2 linked regions of the Homo sapiens genome follow. The protein of the gene in region 1 interacts with the protein of each later gene in a pairwise test. Each region holds a gene or a part of one and is shown on either strand. Other genes may lie near its edges. The genes, in order: DEDD and SHMT1.

The links.
Region 2: the proteins of DEDD (region 1) and SHMT1 interact in a two-hybrid assay, tested with the Homo sapiens proteins (one large-scale study listed by BioGRID and IntAct).

What each region holds. Positions count from the first base shown.
Region 1 is NC_000001.11:161,122,366-161,126,188, forward strand, and holds part of DEDD (death effector domain-containing protein), read right to left. Parts: intron 3,081-3,823; exon of another isoform or gene 2,162-3,080; 5' UTR 2,098-2,161; coding exon 1,773-2,097; intron 1,582-1,772; coding exon 1,474-1,581; intron 857-1,473; coding exon 710-856; coding exon of another isoform or gene 620-709; intron 159-619; coding exon 1-158. UniProt on the Homo sapiens protein: A scaffold protein that directs CASP3 to certain substrates and facilitates their ordered degradation during apoptosis. May also play a role in mediating CASP3 cleavage of KRT18. Regulates degradation of intermediate filaments during apoptosis.
Region 2 is NC_000017.11:18,327,261-18,330,172, forward strand, and holds the end of SHMT1 (serine hydroxymethyltransferase, cytosolic), read right to left. Parts: intron 2,129-2,912; coding exon 2,018-2,128; intron 1,660-2,017; coding exon 1,490-1,659; 3' UTR 613-1,489; downstream 1-612. UniProt on the Homo sapiens protein: Interconversion of serine and glycine.

The sequences.
Region 1 (3,823 bases):
ACAGATGATGGAGCCCAGGTCCCGGGACTTGAGGATGGTGTTGGCCTGGTTAAAGCGCTCAAACTGGCGCTCAAGTGGGTCCTGCTTGTTAGAGAAGACATTGCCCTGCAGAGCAGTCTCATGCTGGCAGTATTCAGCCCGAACCCGCAGTCTGATGTCTGTTGGAAACAGAAGATACAGAGCAGAAGAGGTTACAGTAAGGGATGAGTTTACAAGCCAAGCTTGAAAACTGAAAAGCACAACAGAATAAAAAAGTAGGGAATATCACCTGACAGCTTCTCTACCTCTTCCCCAGGACTATTTCTATGTATCTCTGAAATCCTTGCCTGAATGCAGGAGGTTCCCTTAAACGGGACATGCCGAGGTCAGCACTGTTCCCATTACTCACAGGTAGCAACTTGTTTATAGGAGATATTTTCCTAATTACCAGGCATAGAAGTTCATTTTAATACTCGACTTGGCTCATCCTACAATAAGGATGTCATAACAACATCCCTGTGATGTAGTATTAACTAACAAGAGTTGAAATGTACCCTGCCACAATCATAAAGAGCAGTTCTTCCACCAGACACCAAACCATTCAGCCTCACTTTGCAATGGCAATCAAAGTGAATCTCACACTGAATAGCATAAACTGCCCAGTGTCCCAGCAGTTCTTTATATTCTCCTTCAAGTCTGCTCCATCTCTGGAACCCTTGAACTTCCTCACCACATGTCTGCTTCTCCTTGGGATCTGGTGTCACTGACTTCCGGCGTTTTCGCTGGCTCCCAAGTGTGGCTCTCCCTCGGGCTGGCCGCTTGCTACACATCTGAGGACCCGAAGTGGGGCAACACACCACAGGATAGTGGGGAGGCACTGACCAGAAAGTAAAAGGGAAGAAAACACAGTAGGGTAAAGGCAGAAATTCAAACACTTCTGTTGGAATGAGGAAGGAATCATTTAGACTTAGCACTAAAAGCAGTGGAAAAATGTGACTTGAAAAGACATGTGAGACCAGGTGCAGTGGCTCACGCCTGTAATCCCAGCACTTTGGGAGGCCAAGGCGGGTGGATCATGAGGTCAGGAGATCGAGACCATCCTGGCTAACACGGTGAAACCCCGTCTCTAAAAATACAAAAAATTAGCTGGGCGTGCTGGCGGGCGCCTGTAGTCCCAGCTACTCAGGAGGCTGAGGCAGGAGAATGGCGTGCACCTGGGAAGTGGGGCTTGCAGTGAACCGAGATTGCGCCACTGCACTCCAGCCTGGGCGACAGAGGGAGACTCTGTCTCAAAAAAAAAAAAAAAAAAGACAAGACATGTGAGAGCAAATACAGGACCTAGGAGAAATGTCACCTCGCCTGATTTTTTTTTTTTATGGGGCAAGATGTGGGCGCACAGCATCCTTTCATTTAAGCTGGCAAAGCCCAGAATGTGATGGGATCAGTGTCCTTTTACTTGATGATGGAAAGCAGGGGGAGTTAATGTCTTCTCACCTGTTTTAGAGGGCTGGGGAGGCCTTGGTTCTGGATCACTGAGGGCTCTGGGGGTCACATAGCGAATTGATGTCTCCTCCAGATACTTGTCTACAAGATCAGGGCACACTGTAGGAGGAGAAGTAATCATTCAGGAAAATATACACCCTTCCCTTCTGTCAGTCCAAACCCCCAGTGGGCCTCACAACTTACTCTAAGTACTCCCCAGGATCAATGTGTCCTCCCCTTTGGACGCCTATGCTGCTCCTTCCTGGCCTCCCACAACTCTTCCCTGATTCCAGCCCCTAATACTTCCTCACCAGCCCGTCTCCTCTTGAGGGTGACGTAGGGCAGCAGGTCGTGGCGAGTGATGATGCGCAGCAGCTGCAGCACCTGGCGAAAGTTACTTTCATCACAGCGGCCCTGGCGCTCCAGTGCCAATAAGAAGTCACGTCCATTTCGGATGAGTCCACGCTCGTGGTCATCAATGACATCAACAAAGAGGAAAGAAAGCACGCGCACATCTCTGTGTGTCAGATGAGTGCCCACGATGTCAAACATGCGGTGCAGGCTGTACAGCCCATGTTCCTGCTCACCATGCTCTTCTGGCCACACCTGGCTTGCCCGCCGCTTTAGGCCCGCCATGCTGGGGGCTCAGGTACGCAATGCTTTCCAGAATCCCTGCTCAGCAGCTGCAATCCCCACCGTACTGAAAGGGCAGGGAAAGAACCGATGAGACACTCAAGGGCAGGAACTAGTCTCATGCATTCCCATATTCCCAGTTGCTAACAATGCCTGGCACAGTATAGTGCTTTATACATGTTTATTAAATTTTTGAAGTGTTTGTTTAAAAATAAACACTGGCCAGGCACAGGGGCTCACACCTGTAATCCCAGCATTTTGGGAGGCCAAGGCAGGAGGATCACTTGAGCCCAGGCGTTTAAGACCAGCCTGGGCAACATAGGGAGACCCGTTTCTACAAAAAAAGAAAAAATTAGCTGGGCTTGGTGGTACACGCCTGTAGTCCCAGCTGCACAGGAGGCTGAGGTGGGAGGAAGGCTTGAGGCCAGGAGTTCAAGATCAGCCTGGTCAACATAGCAAGACCCCATCTCTACAAAAAAGAAAAAAATTAGCAAGGCATGGTGGCATGTGCCTGTAGTCCCTGCTACTCAGGAGGCTGAGGCAGGAGGATCACTTGAGCCCAGGAGTTCAAGGCTGCAGTGAGCCATAATCCTGCACTGTAGCCTGGGTGACAGAGTGAGTCCCCCATCTCGGAAAAAAAAGAACTAGTTTAAATTCTGACTGTATCACTGAAAGGCTGTGTAGCTGTGTGACCGTAAGCAAGTCACTTAACTCCAGATTCTCAGTGCTGTCATCTATAAACAGGGATGAATGAATATACACCTCAGAGTTGTTAAGAATCCAATGAGAAAATCACGGGTAACCCTTATATAAATGGTTGTGAAACATTTCAAAGATACAAGCATCCTTGGCCTTTGCAGCCCAGAATCATCCCTCCACATTTTTCCTACAATCCAACCACATCAAGAAATGATAACTGCTCAGAAAGTTTATCAATATTTACCAAAACTCATGGATTTAAAATAAACATTAAGTTTCTACAATAAGCATTCTTGTAATTCTATGCCATTTGTACTCCCTTGATCTTCACCCTATTTGGCAATATCAACTTTTTTTTTTTGAGATGGAGTCTCACTTTGTCACCCAGGCTGGAGTGCAGTGGTGCAATCTCGGCTCACTGCAACCTCCGCCTCCCAGGTTCAAGCAATTCTCGTGCCTCAGCCTCCCAAGTAGCTGGGATTACAGGCACGCACCACCACGTCTTGCTAATTTTTGTATTTTTAGTAGAGATGGGTTTTTACCATGATGGTCAGGCTGGTCTTGAACTCCTGACCTCAGGTGATCCACCCACCTCGGCCTCCCAAAGTGCTGGGATTACAGGCGTGAGCCACCGTACCTGGCCTTGGCAATACCACCTTCTAAGCTTTCCTCATGGATGTCATTTACCAATCCCCTATCAATGACCAATCACAGCTCCACATTCGTTATATAGTTTGGCTCTTGATTCACAAAGTTCCTCCATCGTTATGGGCTACAGGTAATACCAATGACGCAGCCATTAATCAATTCCCAAATTCAACAACTTTGACTCAAGTCACTCATACTTACTGCTCCACCAGACAGTACCATCCTATACTGTGCACTCTCTGGTCACACTCTCCAATCACACAATCAATCCTAAATTCCTGTTAATGCTACTTCTAGATATTTCTTAAATCTATCCTACCTTTCCACCTCCACTGCCATGGTTCAGATTACAATAATCTCTCACCTGGACTACTGTAACTTT
Region 2 (2,912 bases), on another chromosome or scaffold:
GGGGGTGTGGGGAGGGGATGAGCACTCTGCAGCCGATTAATCTGTTGGTAGGGGCCCAGCTTCTTGGGAGTGCTTATTCAGCCCAAGAGTGGAGGCTGTTTACAGCGAGCCCTGGAGATGGCAGCTTGTCTCCAGCTGGGGAGGGGTCAGGCCCCTAAATTGAAGACCACTTTGGTAGCAGAACTGTAGGGACTGGTGAGTCAACTCACAGATTCTGCAGCAGCTGCTCCACCCACAATAAAGCAAACGCCGACAGGCTAGACCCCAGATTGCAGGGGCTGCCACCTACAAGGTGGGACCACAGGCTGCCTCACCGGGATTGTCTGCCACTAAATAGCTGGAGTCACAGATTGAGATAAATGCCACCTTCAAGGTTGCAGTGAAAAGCATAATCCTATGTGATGAATTTATATGTGTTATTTTTTAAAAAGCTATTTTATTACTGCATGTTCCCGTCCCGTCTTGTGAATGTGAGTCCCCGCCACCACGTGAGGTGCAGTCGTTGCAGCGGCTGGTGCAGGAGTGCAGCTGGCGCGTGTGTGATAGCATCTCGTAGGTGTTGCTGCACAAGAGTTAACCAGAGTCAATGCCAAACACATAGTATGAGAAGTGTACTTTTTAAGAAATTAATTTATTTGAGTTCAAATATTTTTGAAATATAAAAATTGGTTGTATTTTTTAAAGCTATAATTCTTGTAGACATTCTGTGGTTAAAAATTTGATTGTGCTTATTAAAAATGGTCATCTATGTTTTGCACTTCAGCTACGTGAAAATAAAATTTCTTTGGGAAGGTGACATTTGGCTTCCTGATTACGGGAGGGAGTTGGTTATCTCAGGTGGAGCAGGAAAGCCTGGTTGATTCTCACACCAGGATGGGACTGGGACTTCCCAGGATGGAGGGAGGAGGCCATTTCTACACCATACTTTGAGCTACTGACAGCAAAACCCTCCCACCATACTGGGTGCATCTTGTTTACTCTTGACTAACATACACTTCTGATTTACAGCAGAAGCCTCAGAAGCTAATTCAGTTCTCCTTTGGCATGCCACTGGATAACAAGATAGTGAGGGGGCAGTGTGTACAAGCTGTGGACATGGGCATTTCCTCTCTGTTGCAGCAAGGCGGAGGAAAGCCCAGGGAGAGTAAAACGCTACAATCTTTCTAACAGCTTTGCCCTACACCACCATCTAAATGATTATGACCAAGTGGCGACATAGTATTTTATTTTCCTAGAATTATGTCCAGCTGTGAGAAAGCCAGGTTCAAATTTAAATCCTTTAATAACCTGTCCCAGAATTACTAACAATGAGACTTAAACAAATTTTGATTTGTGAAGAAAACATGAAAAAAGTCCAAAAGAAACCCCCTCAAAGGGCCCGAGTGTCAACAGTTCCCCTTTGGAGCAGCTCATCCATCTCTCAGGTGGGGGTCCTCCGGCAGGCAGCTTCCTCTGTGGCGCCAGGTGGGTCCAGAGTGGGCCCGCTCCTTTAGAAGTCAGGCAGGCCAGGCAGAGGGAAGAGAGAGGCGAAGCTCTCAACCTCCTCCCGGAGAGCCTGCACGGCCGCCTGGTACTTATCCCCTGCCAGTCTCTCCTTGAACTCTTTCAGGGTGGCTCTGACACCAGTGTCGCTCTGGATCTGCAGGGTCAGCTCTATCCCTGTGCCACAAGACACAAATGAGTCACCCCACACTACACACCAAAGGGGGTACAATGGCTGGGGGCCGAGGCACAAATGTCAGAATGTCCCCCAGCTGGGGAGTGTGGCAGGGCACAAGGTCTCCATGCTTACCTCAATTACTCTGAGATGCACCCACCCTTGGACAGATGTCCTGGGCAGCCCAAATTTATAACCCTCTCAGACAAGGTGATTTACATGTGTTTTTTGCTGTCTCCCACCCCAACACTCAGCCTTGGTGCAGAATTGTCTTTCAGTGGCAGGGTCTCAGCTACTCATCACAATCAGAAACTAAATACACACAATAAGATGTGGCAACTTCCAAACTTTTATCCTTACCTCTGTGAATAAAGTGGGCTACTTTTTGGAAGTCTTTTTCCAAAAGTCCACGGGACGTCAGTGCTGGGGTCCCCAGCCGCAGTCCACTGGGCCGCAGAGCGCTTCTGTCACCTACAAGATAAACGGGGCTCTGTCCCTAAGTCACATTGTCACCACTGTGATGGTGGTGCATTTAAAAAGGGACATGTGGGCAAAAGAGAACTGGCCTGAGGATACTGGCTGTCCCTAGCAAGGAGTACAACTGATTCAGAAACTAAAGTAGAACCCAAGGCACAAGGAGGCACAACCACGTTTGGCCACTCTGACTTAATTACTAGTACACAAAGTGGTCTGATGTGCCCCTTGCTCCTAAAAATGAGGGTAACATCTGTCTGGGTCTGAGATGCGTCATCAATATTTTGTTAACAACCCACAGAGAAATGCAGCCTCTGGATTCCGGAGGCCCTGACCTCCCTCATCTGATGAATGTACCACCTCCAACAGCTCTACATCAGTCTTTTTGCTCCCTGGCAGGGTCAGGGCCAAGTACAAAGGCACAGCCAAGAGACAGCCAAGGTATGGTCCCTGCCCCCGCTCCATTTTTTGTTTTTGTTTTTGTTTTTTTGAGACGGAGTCTCACTGTCGCCTAAGCTGGAGTGCAGTGGCGCAGTCTCGGCTCAATGCAGCCTCTGCCTCCTGGGTTCAAGCAATTCTTCTGCCTCAGCCTCCTGAGTAGCTGGGACCGTGGTGTGTGCCACCACAGCATTTTTAGTAGAGACAGGGTTTCACCGCGTTAGCCTTCTCAATCTCCTGACCTCGTGATCCACCCACCTCGGCCTCCCAAAGTGCTGGGATTACAGGTGTGAACCACTGCACCTGGCCCAGTTTTTTTTTTTTTAGACAGAGTCTCATTCTG